2 separate regions of the Homo sapiens genome follow, and region 2 is linked to region 1. Evidence: fine-mapped expression QTL. A gene starts in region 1. The other region holds a variant in brackets. All regions are shown on one strand. Distances are between the middles of the regions.

What was found. PIP is the estimated chance that this variant, and not a neighbour inherited with it, causes the effect.
Region 2: its variant is fine-mapped to the expression of CCKBR in tibial nerve (GTEx, PIP 0.96).

The regions. Positions count from the first base shown.
Region 1 is chr11:6,253,689-6,263,541 of GRCh38, reverse strand. CCKBR (cholecystokinin B receptor) reads right to left here and starts at 3,704. Exons shown (of 5, transcript NM_176875.4): 1 at 3,463-3,704. The coding sequence starts at 3,613.
Region 2 is chr11:6,282,922-6,292,774 of GRCh38, reverse strand. No RefSeq gene overlaps it. Among named protein-coding and RNA genes, the nearest start is that of CCKBR, 28 kb to the right of the region's middle. The variant C/G (reference allele first, on the strand shown) is at 5,610.

The sequences.
Region 1 (9,853 bases):
GCCATGATCATGCTACTGCACCCCAGCCTGGGCAACAGAGGGAGACTGCCTCAAAAAAAAAAAAAAAAAAAAGATGTTAATCTGAGTAAATGAAATAACTGAGCACCTGAGTGAATGTAAGTAATATTTAAGCTTTTGTGGGTATTATCTGAGTATGTGAGAGTAATATTTGTAATTTTATGGGTAGTATCTGGGAAAAGCTTACTTAAGTGAGCATAGGTAATATCTGGTTGTGTGTGGATAATAATAAAATGAAAGTGAGTAGTGTTTGATGGATGGGTAACACCAAAATGACTTCGGACAATATTAAAGTGAGTGTGGTAACATTTGTCTTTCTGTGGGTACTATCTGAGTGAACATGGGTAATACTCAAGTCTGCATGGATTATATAAGGAGAATAAAGTGGTAACATCCAAATTCCTATTGGTAACATTGGAGTGAACCTGGGTAACCTATGCATCTGCAGGGATAATATCTGAATGAGTGTGGCTGACAGGGTCTCTGTGTGTAACATCTGACTGGCTGGGTAACATCCAAATGTGTGAGGAGCATTTAGATAAGTGAGGCAAATTTTTGCACCTGTGCTCTGAATTGCGTCACATCCCGCTTTCACAGGGAATCTTCTCTATTGACTATCCCCTTTCTTATCTGCACCTTCAATCTTCCTCTCTCGGCCCAATCACCAACAAACATTTTAAAAAGCTCTTGTTTTAAAATGCGTGCACACACACGCGCACACACGTAACAAACCTATGCACATACCCACTCCCCCCTTCCTCAATCTCATGCTATTTTTGGCAATATCCTGCTTTTCTTTCTCTCTCTCTCTCTCTCTCTCTCTCTCTCTCTCTCTCTTTCTTTGCCTACCAGACTTCTTGAAAGTTTTGGCTACATACCTTGGTTCACTTCTCATAACTCCTTCTCTCACCAGTCCAATCTTTAACCTACCATAGTCAAGCCTCAATACCTACAACTCCTAAATATTTTCTTGTTATTGAATGTGAAGGATGCTGTTCTGACTGTCCTGTTTTTTATTTATGTAACTTATGTCAATAGCATTTGATATCACTTACCCCAACCTGCTTGAAACTCTCTTTTTCTTGCTTTCTGGAAGGGCGTAGCTCCTGCCTTTCTGATGGTTTCATCTGAATCTCCTTCATAAATTCTCCTTTCTCTGCCTGGCTTTTAAATAATGGTCTTATGCAGAGTCTTGACCTAGGACCTATTTTCTTCTCATTCTATACAAAATTTTATGATTTTAACTATTCTCGGGGCTTCTACATCCTGTAGGCAAAGACCTTCTTCAAGTCTGTATTTCCACCTCAGACCTCTCCTGTAAGTTCCAGACCCCTGGATTCAACAGCTTACTAGGTAACCTCACCTGGATGCCCCACTAACATTTAAACTCAATGGGTTCCAAACTGAATTTATAATTCCCTCTTCCAAACCTGTTTCTGCTGTTTTGTTATCTTTCTCATTGTATACAATTGCTATAGCACCAATATCCATTCAGTTGTCCAAGTTAGAAATCTGAATGTCATCCCTTGACCTCTTCCATCCTCTCTGCTTCTAATCTGTTGATTCCATTTCCAGAAGAGGCTCTCAAATCTATCCACCTCTCTCCATCTCCCTTGCCATTACCTTAGTCTCAGCTAGCATCATCTTTCACCCAGAACAGTGTAATATAGTAACCTTGTAAAGTATCCCCCTGCCTTCCATCTTATGTCTTCCAATCCGTTCTCCACATTATAGAACTAATCCTGGTAGTACTACCGAATCTTTTAGTAGTTCCTATTGCCCTCGGGAGAAAGTCCATGTTCCATGGTCAGGCCTAGCAGGCTCTCTGCAAACCCTCTAGGCTGGTCTCCAGCCTGTTCATTATTCCCTTCTTAAGATATATGTTCTAGTCACTCAAAACTATGTCACAGTGGATAAAAGTGCCATGAATTCAAACTTTGAGCTTCTTATACATCTTGTCCTTTTATTTGGGATGCTTTCTGCCTCTTCTGCCCGTTCACTTGGCTGGCTCTCCCATATGTATATGTGTGTGTGTGTGTGTGTGTGTGTGTGTGTGTGTGTATATATATTTTTTTTTTTTTTTTTTTTTGCCAACAGGAAGCTTAGAGCCAGCCTCCCTAATTTTTTTGACTTTGTAGCTCATTTCCTCAAGAGGCCAACTTTAATTCTCAAGGAGGCTGGGCTGGGCTAGAGGTGTTCCACTTGTGTTCCCACTATCTTTTCCCTGTCAAGGCTCTTCCACTTTGTGCTGCAATCCCCTGCTTTTCTGTCTCGCCCATTAAACTTTGAGCTCTGTGAAGTAGGAATTGTGTCGGTTTTGTTCAACTTACATTCCCACTGCCTAGCACAATCTCTGGTTCAATAAATATTGGCTGAATGACAGAATCCAAGTGTGAGTGTGTAACAACTCGGCTGAGAAAGCATAGATTATTTCGTGGGGTAAATAAATACTTGGATTACAATTTATTCCAACTTTCCCTTTTTGAGTTTAGAAAAATTTCCTTCTGCTTAACATTGCTCCTTCACCTAGAATCCCACTCCTTCCTTTTCTGCCTACTCAACTTCAAGACCCAGCTCTAAGGTTCTAGCCTCTGTGAAGTTCTTTTGGTGCCCACAGTTTAGACCCTTTCATGGGACTTCCATTGTGTCTGTGATTTTTCCATTTGCTTGGTTTCTCTCTGCACTTGGCTATGGGCCATGAGGGTCCAGACTGGGTCTAGTTTGCCCTGTGCCCCCAGCACCTAGCCTAGGGCTGGAGAGAGAGCTTGGAAGATAGCTGGAGACATTACTTGCAGACAAAGAGAGAGGGCACAGAGCCTCGAAAGCTCCAACTAGGGAGGCAGAGGGGTTTGAGAAGGAGTGAAATGGAGGCAGGCAGCTCTAAGGAGCATCCCCTAGTGTCCAGCCTAATTCAGATTTGAGGATCTTTTTTGGGATGGCTGGGGGCTGGGGTGTCAGATGTGATCACAACTTCAGCTTCGCATTCAAGCTTTCCAGAGTGCTCCCTCCCTCAACCAGCCCCCTTCTTTTCCCAGTCCTGCCTTCCTTTCTTCCTTCCCTTCTCTGTTGTGGCTCTGTGAACTGGATGTAAGAGGGAAAAGGAGATCTGCAGGGTTGGCAAGAGGAGGTCCTCGCCTTCTGACTGGTGTCTAGGAGGGGCTGCGTGTTGGGGAAGGGGCTGTGCTTTGGGGTGAGCAGGGGCTCTAGGTGTATTCAGGGGACCAGGATGTGAAGGAGTTCCGACCAGGTGGTGTGAAGCTGTGATGAAGTTGTAGGCTGTGGGGGTGAAGGTGTGAGGGGAGCTGTTTGGGGGCTGAGGGAGTACTATGAGAGGCACGGTGTGGACGTTTGAGAAGGTAGTGTGGAGCTCGTTGGGGGGACTCTATTAGTGTTCTGGGGTACAGTGAGAAATAGCTTGTGGGGGGGGCTGAGGGAGGCACCCACCTCGTGTCCCGGCTCCGCGAATGCGAGGGGGCTCGCAGCTGAGGTTGCCCACACTGCTGCTGTTGAGGAGAGGCGCCCCCGGGCGGCACAGGGAAGCCCCCGGCCCGGGTCCGGTTCCCTGCACGCTCCGGTTCAGCTTTAGCAGCTCCATGGCCCCCGCCGAGCCCGCCGCCTTACTCAGCTCGACCCGGCGGGCTCCCAACGCGGCTCCACCTGCTCACGCTGCGATTCCGGCTCAGGCTCCCGCCGCCCTCCTCTCCCTGCCCCCTGCCCCGCCTGGTCCCCGCCCCCAGCCCAGGCGCCTGCCCTCCACTCTCCCGCGGCTCGCCCCGCCTGGGTTCCCGTCCCTCCGCCAGCCTCTGTCCCGCCAGGTGACTGTGCACCCCCTCCCTGGCTCGGGAGTTCTGCCCCTCCCTGTGCGACTGTCCTCCAGGCTCGCCCCCTCCCTAGATGTGTCCCGTCTCCTCTTAGAGATTTCTCTCCTGCCCACCTCTCTTTATCACCCGCCCCCACCCCCGATTCCCAGGAATGAGAGAGAGAGAGAGAGAGAGAGAGAGAGAGAGAGAGAGAGAGAGAGATTGAAGACAAGAGTATTGGCAGCGTAGGGGGAGGTTTCGGGGAAGGGAGGGTAGGAGGGGTTGGGTAGAGACGGCTGCCACGGATCCAGCATCTTTCTCTGGTGTATCAGGGAACGTGGAGGTGGCGTTGGAGACCAGGTCTGCGTGCGTCACCTGCTGAGGCGCGGATGCTTTAGTCTGAGCCTAGAGCCGCATTTACCGTACTGTGTTGCAGTGGCCGCAGTGACCGTGACACTATTGCTACCGTAGTTCCCTGCAGCTCCTCGCTGCGGGCCTGGGGTAGCTCCTGCATCTGTCTCCGCACCCTCCATCTCCTGTCTGAGGCTTAACACTCAGGCTTGCACTTAAGGGTCCCAAGGAGCCCTCCACAGCTGGGCGGGAGTGGGGGTGGGGCCGGGGCCGAGATTTGGCTCCAGGGAAGCCTTGCCAGGGAAAAGGGCTCCCGGGAGGAAGCTTCTGACTTGAGTGTTGAGGGCAGTTGGGGGTGGTGGCAAGCACTGACAAGGATAAACCAGAGTAAGGTGAGGATGGGATATAATTCTAACGCCGGCCCAGCGCAGGCAAAAGAGAAGGAGAAGGTTGGCTTTCTCCACCGTCTCCAGGCAGCGCCCACGCCCACCCGACACGCTAACGCTCCCTGTTTGCTCTCAGTGCAGGCAGAGCTGCCTGTGTAGGGTGTCAGGTTCCCACGAGAGGGGGCTAGAAGGGGACTGGGTCACTGCGGTGCAGCGGGAACAGGGCTGAAGGGTGCAGGACTGAACTGGGTTCAGCTTCTCGGGGCAGGATTTGCCTCTTCTACTATTTCAGCCCTGCTCCCTATGCATTCTCCTATCCATTCCTTTTCTTCCCCAGATTCCTATCTCCAGATTCCTATCTCCAGATTCCTATCCATTCTTCAGATTCCGGATGAACTCCAATACGATGTGAAATTCTTCTGACCCCCAGCAGTAGCTGTAAGAGGTTGGGGGCGGGCATCAGTGGAAGAGCAAATTAGAGAATGGAGTCTGGCTTTATGGGGGATTCAGCAGGCCCTTATCCAATTAATCTTTTGGAGAGGACCTGGTTCAGCCAGCCCTGAGTTTATAGGGGCTGAAGCATTGAAAGAGAGTTGAAAGACAGTTTATGCCTGAGATGTCATCAACTGCTCCCCCTTTCCTTCCTCCTGGTACTGCCTGTCTTGCCCATCAGAGAGCCTGGACCAGAGGAGCTTGATTTGCTATTTGTTCCGCTCCAGCACAGGTGGGGCCTCAGATAACCTGCTCAAGTTTTCCCACATTGGATGACAGTACGATGAGGAGGGAAGGGAGCAAAGGATGTAAGGGAGAGGGGAGTGAAAATAGAAATAGATGGACATTCACTTATTTAGCAAACTATGCCAGTTCTAGGGGTATGCACTAGTTGTCCAATATAGTTTGCCCCTCAGTAGCACCTACTCTAGTGGGATTTTCCCAAGCAAGCCAATGATTGTAATATATGGTCGTTAAGTGCACCCACCAGGATGTACAAATCAGAAATTTAGGAATTATTATTGATGCCTTACTCCCCTATGCTCCTTCACCCCTGCGCTGGATGCTGTGATGCAAAGCCCAGAACCCTCTTCAAAAATGGAGGATTTATTTTCCAGCTGTGGAGAGTGCTCCTAAAAGATGGCCCTCAGCTGTCATAACCCTTCAGGAGTTGCCTAAGCAGAAGAAAGCCAGCTCATCCAAGGTTATGCTCCCTTTCTTGGGCATTCTATATCCAATGACCGATCAGCACAGAGGTATAAAAGTTTAATCCCCTCAACCCAGTGGTGGACAACTCTGAAAGATGCTCACACCCCTAGAACCCTTCATATGGTTGACTGAGGTCTTTGCTGGGACTGAATTACTACTCAGCTTCTCCTTTTGCCCAATCCTATTTTCATCCTCTCTCTTGCACAGGTGTTAACTCCAAGAACGCTCCTTAGTAAACATCCTCCACAGTAATCTTTGTTTGAGAGTCTGCTTCCTGGGGAACATAACTACATCACTCCCATATTGAATCAATCACAAAGTCCTGTTCATTTTAGCTACTGAGTGTTCCTTGAATCTGCCTGCTTATATGTCCACTGATATTACCCTACTCTTGAACCACACTCCTAACCTCCTAAATGGGCCACCACATTTTACTGATGCCTCTCTACATCTATACTTCACCTTAAAGCCGAAGTACTATGCTCAGAATACAAATCTGACTATCCCACTCTTTTGACCTTTGCTTTTGGGAATGAGAAAACATATTAACAGAATTTAGAAAGCCTGTGAGGCCTGGCTCCCACTTACCTCTCTAGCCACATTATTTCAAATCACATTATTTCAAATAAGAGTCACAATGATTCTTATTCTCTCCACTGTAAACACATTAGCCTTTTTTTGGTCACTCCTTCTTTTTTCTCTTTTATTTTTCTTTTTTCTTTTCTTTTTTTTTTTTTTTTTTTTTGCTATATGTCCTTCAGTTGCATGACTTTTCCATATGCTCTCTGGAAGCTTCTTCTTTCCTTCCTTACCTAGTTAACACTTACTCATCCATCTGATCTCAGCTCAAGCTACGATTCTTCAGGGATATTTCCCCTGGCTTCCTCTCCTTGGGTAGGCAGAATTAGAAGATGACCACCAATGACTGTCACCCTTATATAATCTTCTTTTGTGTGTGGATGGACCTGTGCATATGATGAGATACTACTCCCACAATTATGTTATATGGCAAAAGGGATTTTGCAGATGGAGTTAATTCTACTAATCAGTTGATCTCAAGATAGACAGATTATCTGGCTAGTCCTAACCAAGTCACATGAGTTCTTTAAAAGCCAAGGGTTCTTTTTTTCTTGCTGGTAGCAGAAGAGGAAATCAAAGAGATTGGAAGAATGAGAAGAATTCAACACACTGTTGATAGCTTGAAGATGGAGGGGATAATGTGGCAAGGAACGAATGGTGGCTGTTTTCTGGCTCGAGGGTGAAGGAGGGCACAGGACAAGCCCTGAGAGTGGCCTCTAGTTGACAGCAGTCTCTAGCTGACAGCCAGCAAAAGAACAGAGACTTCAGTCCTCCCCCGAGTCTGTAGAAGAGAATTCAGTCTGGCTGAAACCTTGATTTCTGATACCCTGAGCAGAGAACCCAGCCACACTGTGTAGACCTCTGGCCAATAGATCTGTGAGCTAATAAATGGGTGTTGTTTTTAGCCACTACATTCATGGTAATTTATTACAACAGCAACAGACAAATCATACACCTTCTATCTCATGAGGCAGCAAATGCAGACTCTTGCAAGCCATGCAAGGAAGAATTGGGAGCATTGGAAATTTGTTAAGATTTAGAAAGATTTGGAAAGATTGCAGTGGAGTTAGTGTGGGGAGCAACTTAAAAGGTGGGACCAATTGGGAGTCTATGACAGTAATTTGGGTGAGAGATGGTAGTGGCTTGACCTAAAGTCATGGACGTAGTGGAAAAGATTGATCTAAGACCTATCTAGGAGGTAGAAACAGAATTTAAAGATAATTTGCATGTGGAGGGTGAGAAAGAAGGATGAGATAAAAAATGAATAAGGTTTCTGGTAACTCAATATAAACTATTTGATGATCACCTATGATGTTCAAGGCACATTACCTGTAAGTACATTTAATCTTCATGAAGAACCATGAATTTAGGTCCAATATTGTTGATCACTATTTTAGATGAAAAAACTATGGCTTAGAGAGAGTTTAAGTAACTTGCCCAAAGCCACAAAGCTACTAGGTGAAAGAGCCAGAAGTCAAAGTCAGGGATTTTGGAAATCAGAATTCAGTTGTTCATACTGTGCTGCTTAGAATGAGTAGATGTCTTACCAAATTTCCCTGATTACCTTCTTTCTCTCATTTTACACAATATTGTTTTTAAATTTTCTCGTCTCATAAAATCTCTAATTTCTTCTCCCACCCTGACACACACACACACACACACACACACACACACAGAGACACAGAGCATTCTTCACTCTCAACCTAGACTCCAACTTCATAGAGAAAATAGTAACTAGCACAGAGAAACTCCCACCATCAAATCTGTTCTGTTTTGGACATATTAAGTTTCAGATGTCTATTAGATACCTAAGTAGAATTCCATTAGGAAGCTAAATATACAGATCATATAGGAAGTAATGCAAACCACAGAATTAGAGTGTGTAGAATAAGAACAAATGAAGGATCAAGTCAGACTTTTAGAGGTCATTATTAAAGACTGGATAGAGAAAGATGAGCCTGCAAAAGACACCAAGAAAGAGTAGACAGAGGGACAGGAGGAAACCCAGAGAGTGAAGCATCATAAAAGCTAAAAGAGAAGAGGTGCAAGAAGAAACTGGTGAACTCATTCAAATGCTGCTCCTGGGTAAGCAAAATGAGGAATGAGAAATGTGGTCCAAAATTAGTAACCTGGAGATCTTTGGCAACCTTAGAAAGAGCCATTTTAGTGAGGTTGTTGAGGCAGAAGGCAGGGTAGATGTCCTGAAAACTGAATATGGTGGGAAGAAGTGGAGTAAATGACTTCAGACAAGTTTTTAAGAAATGTAGTTACTAAGGAAAGGGGATAGAGCTGCAAGAGGATGTCAAATGAAAGATTTTTTTTTTTAAGATGGGTGGACTTGAACTTTCTTTTCTTTCTTTCTCTCTTTCTTCCTTTCTTTCTTTCTCTTTTTTTCATTTTTTTGGCAGATGGAATTACTCCAATATATAAAAAGACTAAAGATACAGGAGAATGGCTAATTAATAATGCAAGGTTCCTGAGAAGTCAGGGATGTATGCAATCCAGAGCGGAAGTGGAGGATCCTAGCTTTTGATTGCAGTAGAGACTCAATTGTGAGAGGAAATTAGTAGAAAAAGATGATTATAGATGAAAATAAGTTATGGCCTACAAATTAACCGCTACATTTCCTAGACCTTTTTGCAGCTAAGTGCAAAAAATGCACACTATGACTAGGTAGTGTCTGTAGGTAGAAGTGATATGTGCAGCTTCCACATCAAGGTCTTAAAGGAGAGAAATGGACCTTCTCTTCCTCTTTGCCCCTATGGGAGGGCAATAGGAATGTAAATAGGAAAGCAAGCCACCTTCAATCATGCAGTGAGGGTAACATATTAGGGATGGCAGAGTGACAAAATGGAAGGAGTCTGGGTCTCCTATACTCTCAAACCATTTTATCATCCCTGATTCTTCTGCATGAAAAAGAAACTGCAGTCTTAACTCGTTACAGTTTTTTTCCTCTATTGTCAGGGCAACCTAACCTGCATCTTAACTGAGACAGTTGTTTGTAGATTTGGTAGGGAGCTGCTGTCTGATAGTTTTTATTTTTGCTATGGAGTTGGAGATCTGGTTATCAGAGAGTGGTGTGTGTGTGTTTGTGTGTGTGCGTGTGATGAAAATTTTTAGTAGTCAAGATGGTTTAAGAAAACAATATATAATGGGAGAAGGGAAAAGGAGACCTGAGGAATGTAGTGAAATAATAGGAAAATACTGAGGGCCCACTTAAGGGGTGATGACTACAAATTTCTAGTGGGATCAATTTCTCAGCAGAGCTCAGCTGGTTGGATGCAAGCAAGGAGAATGTTGATGGTTTGGTTCATCCAAAGTTGGAATTTTACCAGATGAATGGAATGGCAAAATAAAGGGACAAGTGTGAAAAAACGGGCCATAAAATCTCAGCTGGACATGGAGAAGAGAGAATTATATTCCAAGGGTCTGGCTCCTGCCCTTGTTATTGTATTTGGAGATAGGGCCTTTAAAGAAGTAATTAAAGTTAAATAAAGTTATAAGGGTGGGGCTAGAACT
Region 2 (9,853 bases), 29 kb before region 1:
AGAGGAAACAATGAATTCTAAAACCTTACAAGGCAGGTCTTTGTATTTTCTGAGACTTATGTCCTAGGAAGCATGCCAAAGAACCTCTCAGTGAATTCTAGAGGCTTTGCACCTTAGAGTGGCAGGTAGACACCAGCTAGAGCCCTTTTCTGCCTCTCTGCTGAGAGTGGTACTGTCCTTACCAATCTTTGATATAAGTTATGAGCTGATGAAAGAATTATCTTTAAGGACCATGTGCATGTATGATTTCAGTGTAAACTGTGCTCTTTATTTCTAAGTACAGTGAATGTTTGTGTGCATTTGCTAACGAGTAGGTGCATTATAATCAATTCCTTCTTTATAATATATTGAAGTCTCTTTTTTTTTTTTTTCTGACATGGAGTCTTGTTCTGTCATCAGGCTGGAGTGCAGTGGTGCAATCTTGGCTCACTGCAACCTCCGCCTCCTGGGTTCAAGCGATTCCCCTGCCTCAGCCTCCCGAGTAGCTGGGACTATAGGTGCCCGCCACCACACCTGGCTAATTTTTTGTATTTTAGCAGAGACTGGGTTTTATCATGTTGGCCAGGATGGTCTTGATTTCCTGACCTTGTGATTTGCCCACCTTGGTCTCCCAAAAGTTCTGGGATTACAGGGATGAGCCACTGCGCCCAGCTGAAATATCTTAAAACACACCTGAAGAAGAGGGTATTATGGAGTTACTGGTGCAGATGATACCAACATTGCTTCAAAATGAACAGAAGTAAAGCTGCCTAAATGGAATCCCTGCAGCACTACTGCGGTAGACCCTGTAGGCTGACTAGCTAATTAGGCAAGGAGTCCTTGCTGGCAGTGAAGACCACAGGCCAAAGGCAGGGAATGGAGCTGTGGGGCCAAAAATGAACTTAAGTGTGAATAACTGGGGTGGGAGAATCCAAAAATTCTGTCCTATGTATCAGTACTTTTCAAACTGTAATTTGTATGGGAATGATCTAGGGGTGTTGTTAAAGTACAGGTTCTGATTTAGAAGGTCTGGGATGGGCTTGAGAGCCTTGATTTCTAACAATTCCCAGGGGATCACCCTGCTAAATCATCTTTTTAAGAAGGAAATAAATTGAGGGAAAGATTAAAAAACAAAAGAGGGGAATGAAGGTGGAAGTGAGCAATGTAAGCCCCAGTGCTTTCCCCAGGGCCATGCTCTCGGACCACTTCCAGGGGAAGACCTTTAGATTCTTCAGCCACCAAATCTCCTTGGAGGATTCTATTGCGGAATTCTCTTACAATAACTATACCACCTTGCTTATTTAGAATCTCTGTTGTATAGAGTTGGGGGGGAGGAGGGGTGTTCCCTCTGCATTTGGAGGAAAACTTCACAGTTCTAGAGTAGTGAAACCCTGGTGGTGGTGACAGCAGTGTCCCAGGGTGGTTGAAGTACTCCAAGGAATGGAGCTGAGATCTCACTGAGACTGCATACGAGGGAGCGCATACAAGGGATCTCATGGAAGGCATACAGAGGCATCACTGAGGATTCCTACAAATACATTTCTGGTGGGGGGTATTATAAGGGGGCATGAGAAGAATTAGACAAATATGTGACCTCCAGATAACTACATATATGCTCCAGAAGTGCCAGGATCTGGACACCTGCCTCACAGAGGCCATCACGCCAGTCTGTGTTAGCCAGAGAAGCAGTAACCACCCACAGAGACGGGAGCACAGCGTCACCTGGCTAAGGAAGGGGATGCTGTCTTTCTGCTTTTCCTTCTTCCCCAACACCAGTGGGAGGAACTATAGCAGGAAAGTTATGGGAGTACCTGAGAGTCAGACTATACTCCATCTCTCCTTTTTACTCTGATAATAACATTACAATTTTTAAACATATTTCTATGAATTTGCATGTTTATAATGTTTGCTCATTTTCCTATTGTGCTTGTATTTTCTTATTGATTTATAAGAACTCTTTATATATGTAAGTATATATACATACGTATATTACGTGTGTGTGTGTATATATATATATATATATATATATATATATATAAAGATACACAGATTTATATATATAATGAGAACTTTCTTGTGGGAAAAAAACCCAATAGCTTGAATCTTAGAGATTGCTAGTTATTAATGACAATAACAATGGCAGCTAATTTTTATCAATAATTTTCCAGGTACTCTGTTAGATGTTTCACATGGATTTTCTCATAATCCTCCTGACAACCCTATGAGGTAACTGCTATCACCTCAGAAAACCGAGATTTAAACAGTATAGACCACTTATCCAGTGTAACACAGCTAGTGAATATTAACACCAGGATTTGAACCCAGGCACACACTCTAGAGAAGAAGACAGGAAAGGCAAGAGGCTCTTGAGAATTCAGAGGGTCCTGAGAAGGGGGTATGCCAAGGCTGTGGGCTAAGAGTTATTAAGGTCGCAATCCTCTCCTTCCTCTCTCTTTAAAACAAATATTAATGGTGAGAGTGAGCTCTGGGCTAGGTACCGAGTAAAGGGTGGTGAAGGACACAGATAGGTCCCAGAGCTTACTGTGTGAAAGGAGAGAGCCACAACAAAAATAAGCATGTAATCTTAAATATTTGTACATGCTATGACGAAAAATTAGAAGGGCGTAACAGGTAACGAGTGGAGGACAGTTTAGACTAAAGGAGTAGGAAAGGCTTCTTTTGAGTAAGAAATTTTTAAATAGAGACCTGACAAAGAAGTATAATAAGTTAGTCAAATGAAGAGGAGGAGAAAAGAAGAAATTGCTAATGAAAAGAGAGAAATCATTCCTGATGTAGGAACGGTAAAAGGAAAGTAAATCTTGGGACCCCCAAATCACTAAGCCAAAGGGAAAAGTCAAGCTGGGAACTGCACTGGGAAAACCTGCCACCCGTTCTATTTTTTCCTTTCACAGAACAAACAGGACTTTTGAACAAGTGAAAGATGCTAGATGAGTAGGCAGGGGTTAGAGCAGGCAGAGAAGTGTTGAAAGTTTCAGGAGGGGACTTACAGGGTCCCTACCACTGGAATGAATTAGCAGAGGGTTTTGGCATTTTGAAGCTAAAGTCTCAGAATTTGTTGGTCAGTTATGGAGTCAGAAAGTGACCCTTGAAAGTGTGGGGATTGGGGCTCCTGAGGCAGGAACTGACCTTGGGCTTTGCCTATCTCAGGGGCTCCTGGTCTCAGTAGATTTTTCAGGGTCCGCGTTCTCTTCTCACCTACCCATTCTCTCCCACAATTTAGTCAGACCTCTGCAACAGATTTTCAAACTGTCCAGTCATTTCCACCTGGCCCTTTTCTACCTCTCCATCCACTTAGCATAGCATTTTCTCTTCGGGTATGGAAGAAATAGCTCAATTTTTTTGTTTTTACTCAAACCAGCTCTGGCATTTTGTACCTTTCTTCCTTTGCTCAAAACTACTTGTCATTCTTGGAATTTGACTCTCTTTTCATATTCACCTGGGAAGAATTTTAGAGCTGTAGAGAGCAGCCTAGCTCAGAAGGTACTTCCTCCACAAAGCTTTCTCAGACCCCCACAGTCAAAACCTCTATTTTGCCCATTATTGCCCATTCAAGGAGATCATAGTTGGCTTGCCTTAAAATTTTATTTCCTGCACATCTGTGCCTTCCAAACGTGAGTGAACCTATCTAGGGATGGACCATGTTACATCTTCTCAGATCTAGCCCCTTGCCTGCAGTTTCTCCTCTCCTTTCCTATAGTGGGGAATATTTCTTCACTCAAATTGATCAGTGGTGTGACCAACTTTGTAATCCTCACCTCCTAACCATATTCCCAATATTCCACAAAGGTAAGAGTCACTTGGATGTTTGTTAAAAAGTCAGATTCCTGGGCTTTGCCCTAAACCTAATGAATCAGATTCTTCAGACATGCCTCTCACATGTTATATACCTCTCTTTAAACATAATTTATATTTTTCCCTAGCAGCTTTGAAGCTTTTCTCTTTTTCGTTGGTTTTCTTTATCTTCACTATGATGGCTCTATGTGTGTATTTCTTTTGTACTTGCTGGAATTCGTAGTGCTAAAGGAAAGGGGTCCTGATTCAGACCCCAAGTGAGGGTTCTTAGATCTTGCGCAAGAAATAATTCAGGGCGAGTCCACAGAGTAAAGTGAAAGCAAGTTTATTAAGAAAGTAGAAGAATAAAAGAATGGCTACTCCATAGACAAGAGTAGCCCTGAGGGCTGCTGGTTGCCCATTTTTATGGTTATTTCTTGATGATATCCTAAACAAGGGGTGGATTATTCATGCCTCCCATTTTTAGACCATATGGCGTAACTTCCTCACGTTGCCATGGCATTTGTAAACTGTCATTGGTGCTGGTGGGAGTGTAGCAGTGAGGATGACCAGAGATCACTCTCATCACTATCTTGCTTTTGGTGGGTTTTAGCCAGCTTCTTTACTGCAACCTGTTTTATCAGCAACATCTTTATGACTTGTATTTTGCGCTAACCTCCTAACTCATCCTGTGACTTAGAATGACTTAACTGTCTGGGAATGCAGCCTAGCAGGTCTCAGCCTTATTTTACCCAGCTCCTATTCAAGATGGAGTTGTTCTGGTTCATATGCCTCTGACATGTCCCTTCTGCCTTTTATAGGAGAACCCTTAATCCTAAGGTTGCAGAGGGATGACGATCCATCTTTTGTAACGGCTTCACCTGAATAGGGGTGATGATATTCCTGCCTAGCTATTAGAGCCTCTTGTGTTTAGGGTAGAGAGGAACTCAATCAGAAAGCATTGGTATGGCAAGGGCCAATCATAACTTTGAGTTCCGAGAAAAGGTGATATCTCGAAGATTAATACGTATTTAGTTTAAGAAAACGTTCAGTAAGCTTATCCTACATTCCTACACAAAGAGTACAACAGCAATATATTCCACAACAGTAAAGCAAAATAAGTAAAACTATCTCAAGTAAACTAAATTAGAAGGCTTTATATGAATTGGGCAACTATTGGAACCAAGCTGATATAGGGTTGCTAGATGATTCCAGTACATGCCCAGAATTAGAATACTGATTCAGATTTTCACATTACCTTTCCCTTTTGTTTCTTCTGAGCAGCAGTCAGAGATTTCTGGTTGGTTCACAGAAATAAGCAGCGTTAGCCTAAATTGCAGAAACAAACTTAAAAACAACTGATGAGACTAGAATTTAATAAACAGTGTACCACAGTTCTTGAAACATAATTTCTCTCTCCAGTGTCCCATTTTTACTAAAGATAAGTTATGGTAAGACCAATTTGCTTTGTTTTGCTTGGCCTGATTACTTGTATAAAGTGCAGCAAAAATAATTATTTTTTTCATAAGCTCTTTTTGCACAGGCTTTGATGGAACTCTGTTCCCTAGAAGGAATCTTACATAAGACTTTTTTAGAGCCGAGCCCTTTCATGGGTTTGTACCCTCGAATACCTATGAGTTGAATAAATTCCTCTCCTCTTGGGGTCGCAAGATAACCTGGGGCTTCTGGACCTGTTAGAAAGTGACATTCTTTACTTACCACAGGTCAGAAACCTTGTATGGGGACTGTTATCCATACCTTGTATGGGGACCTTGTAGACAAGGTCTGAGGCCAATTGCCCAAGGGGCTTTTATTGGCTTTACAAGTCAAGTTTGATT[C/G]CTTAAAGAAAAGCACACCATTCCAATCAAAGTGTTGGTAAAATAACCAATTTCTCCAATTGTGTCCTGTTGCAAAAGAAAACATTCTTATTGCACTTATGCAAATACCTATATTGCCATAACTTAAGAATATTCACAACTAGTTTCCAAATTCTGGAGAAATCAGGTAGAGAGAAACAAATAAGCTCCAAATTTTGTTCGGAGGAGTATACTTTACTCAATTGCTAAAAGCTGTAAATAGCTCAAAAAAAAGTTTTCTTGACTCTGAAAAACAAAACAAAGGATTTAAGCAAAAAACGTTTTAAGCAAAAAGTTTAGAAGATACTTCAGACTTCTTTAGTTACTCTATGCAGTTAACTTTTGTTTGATATTCATGAACATTTCAGCTCCCTGTGAGAGCTCTGAAAGTTTTTTTCCTCTATTCTGATGTCACAATCTCCGAAGTTACCAGAAAACCTGCATTTAAGAGCCCCTGTATAGCTCTATAGCTGATTGTAAACCACCTTCTAAAGAGGAACAAAACGAGACTACAATTTTTTTATGGATGACAAAAAGTTTTAGCACAGTCAAGCCAAAATTGACTAGGAAATTTTGAGTACCTTTGTGGCACACAAGGATTTTATGTAACAATCGTACACTAAGTCCTGTCAGAATTACAGGAGTTTTAAAATAATTTTGGAACACATACCAATAACACATTTATACAAATACAGCCCAAAGAAAGCTAAACACTATTTTATATTTAATAATGCTTCCTGTATGATTTTTATGCCAAAAAAGCCAAATGTCACTGTTGCATTAGGGCATTATTGATGTCAAACCCAGTTCTTAATAAAACCTTATAGACAAATCTACCAAATTTTAATGTTTGGCCATAAGGTAAGATTCTCATAAACCTTTTATAACCCTTAAAAATTTTTGTTAAAGAGCAGATTATAAGCAGGTTTTTGCTCTAAGAAAAACCTGTTGTGCTTTTGTTCCAATGTTCAGTTTACAGAAAAACTGAATAATGCCACTTTAACTTTAGCCAACATGTTTACACACAGAATTTCTTTTACAATTAGTTCTTTACAAGCCTTCGATAACTTGTTCAAACCTTTAGCTTTATTTTATTTAACTTAAAACAATCCTTTGACCCTTTAAACTTAGGCAAAAAATCCACATTCCTATGCCTTCTTATAATCTTTTACCAAAAACACGTTTTACTTTTTTTTACATGCCTTACATGTAGAACCGTTTCCTCAGTAGTCTCAATTACATGTTATAATGTTAACTCCTGGCAACTTTTATTTTTGGTGAAAACCTTGGTAAGTTTGGGATTTTAATGATGTACTAGGTGTGGAGCCTAGCCTAGGACATACCAGGCAGAAGTGCAGATAAGAGCTGACCCTCCAGCATAGCTAGGGGACATGGCTAACTCCACATGTGTCCAGGTCTTACCTACAATCTAATATCTCCAAGGGAGGTAAATTGAACAATTTTTAAACGTCAAAGAAGCAGTTTATGACCTTAAAGCCTTTAGCAAACTTAATATCTAACCTGTGTAATTTAGACCAAATGTTTACATTTTTGAAGATATTTTTATTTTACCAATAATCTTTAAAACTGTCTTTATTTTCTGAGGATTACTTAAGTCACATGAACTAAAAGGCATTATACTTTTTACTTTTCTGACAAAATATTTGATTTAAGCTTTTATTACTATTAAACCAATTAATCAAAGCTCTTTTAGATATAAACGTCACACACACAACACATACAAATACACAGACAGACAGAAGATAAAGGATTCATCCGTAAGCCAGAAATGCACCCTAAACTTGGGCCACCATTGTGAAAAGAGAAAGCACAGCCACATGGTTACAAGGTCAGGCTCCCAAGGACATGACTGACCAGAGGGAAACCTCATGCAGTTCACACACACACACACACACACACACACACACACAGAAACAGAGAGAGAGAGGCCAGGCATCTGACTGGTAACACATTCTTATCCTTTTGCTGGCATGCCAGGTCTCTGGGTTCCCTTTCCCTGAGCGTCCCTAGTGACCCGTCTGGCTGCACCACAGCCCTGTGGGCCAAGACGCAACACAAAGGAAAATTATCTTTTTCTGTTCTGGTCAGAGCAAAATATGTGTGACAAAACATAGACATTAACCACTCTACTTAGCACCCAGTATCAAACTGGCAAGGCTCAAACTTGCCCCTATCATCATAAATCCAACCTCCGACCAGGAGTTTCAACATGTGTTCTCTGGGCAAGATGGTCACCCTGAGTAATAGAAAAAAAAAGAAATGAGAGAAAGAAAAGCATTGCTTGTGGCAGGGTGGGGAAGGCGAGGCTCTCAGGGAGGCCAGAGAAAGACCCACCCATTGCAGCGACCCTGAAAAGTTCAGGCGGCCGCTTGTTGGTCGTGAAGGGATCTTTTCCAGCAGTCCCACCAGCTCTCAAGTTTCCCCTTTTAGGAAGCAAAAAGCTCCCCATGTCCCACGATCCTGTAAGTGCCTAATTCTGTCACTCATAGCCATCAGCAAAGAGTGCAAGGCAGATTAATCCAAAGAAAATAGCAGTTAACATCCCATAATGCCAAACCTGTTCTTAGATGAGAGGGACTTTACTGAGAGGGGCCTCTAACCCCCTAAATCTTAGGAGGGACTCTAACCCTCCTAAGTTGGGCCTCTAACCCAAGGTCAGTCAAGTATCCTTGCCTTTTATTAAGAGGGGCCTCTAACTCATTCTGTTTTGGAAGAGACTCTAACTAGCCTAAGTTGGGCCTCTAACCCAATCCCATTCTTTACCTGCGTACTCCACCACTTACCCAAAGTCGTCCAATCAGTGCTGCGGTCTATTTCCTTTGGGTTGGTGGGTCTCCTCAGTATTGTCCCTTCTGTGGCTCATGAGAAAGATGCCACAGGACCCCACCACTTATCCAAAGTTACCCTTTGGGTCGGGGGTTTCCACACTATATTCCCTTCTGTGGTTGCCAGAAAGATGTTACAGGAAAGGGTCCTGATTCAGACCCCAAGAGAGGGTTCTTGGATCTTGCGCAAGAAATAATTCAGGGCGAGTCCATAGAGTAAAGTGAAAGCAAGTTGATTAAGAAAGTAAGTAGAATAAAAAAAATGGTTACAAAGCAGCCTGAGGGCAGCTGGTTGCCATTTTTATGTTTATTTCTTGATGATATGCTTAAAAAAAGGGGTAGATTTTCCATGCCTCCCCTTTTTAGACCATATAGGGTAATTTATAAACTCATGGTGCTGGCGGGAGTGTAGCAGTGAGGATGACCAAAGGTCACTCTCATCACTCTCTTGCTTTTGGTGGGTTTTAGCCGGCTTCTCTACTGCAAACTGTTTCATCAGCAAGGTCTTTATGACTTGCATTTTGTGCCGACCTCCTAACTCATCCTGTGACTTAGAATATCTTAACCACCTGGGAATGCAGCCTAGCAGGTCCCAGCCTTATTTTACCCAGCTCCTATTCAAGATGGAGTTGCTCTGGTTCACATGCCTCTGACAATGGGGTGTCTTGAGTCTGTAGCTTTAATTTTTTGCTGGAAGCTGCCCTAAGTTCCTTGCCATGTGGGCTACTCCAATGTGGCCACTTACTTTACGACAGCTTCCTTCTTCACAGCTTGCAATGGAGAGAGAGTTTACTAACAAGACCTAGTCTTTTATAACATAACTACCCTGGGAGTGATATCCCATCAGTTTGCCATTTCTGTCAGTTACATGAAAGTCACAGGTCCCTTTCCCGACACTTAGGGTGGAGGGAGCTTAGAGCCTGTCCACCACAGTCTTCTATGAGACTCCCTACTTTGCCAGCCCCTGGCCTTGATTTCTGTACACTGAGACCCCCAGTGACGGTGTCAAATATTAGAAATGGGAGAATATGCAAGTGCCTTCAGGGCAAAAGTGGTTTCCACGGTTTCCAAACCCTCTAAGCTTTCCCTTCACTTTTTGAAATGATAATTCCTTACTGTTTTGTCATCTCTTTATTGATTTTAAGAAAATATTTCTTATATTTTGTCCAGTTTTTCTTTTTAAAATTATTTTCAGCAGAAGGGTTGAACTAAGTAACCTAGGCAACCACTTATTAGGAAAAAGAAGTCCTGATTTTAGGGCTTTAGAAGTTCTAAAAACTTGTTTAGTAGTTTTTAGAAGATTCACTGAGACTGCTGTTTGGGGAACACATGTAAGGATGCAAGCATGGGAGCAGAAAGATAAGTTAGTTATTAATATTA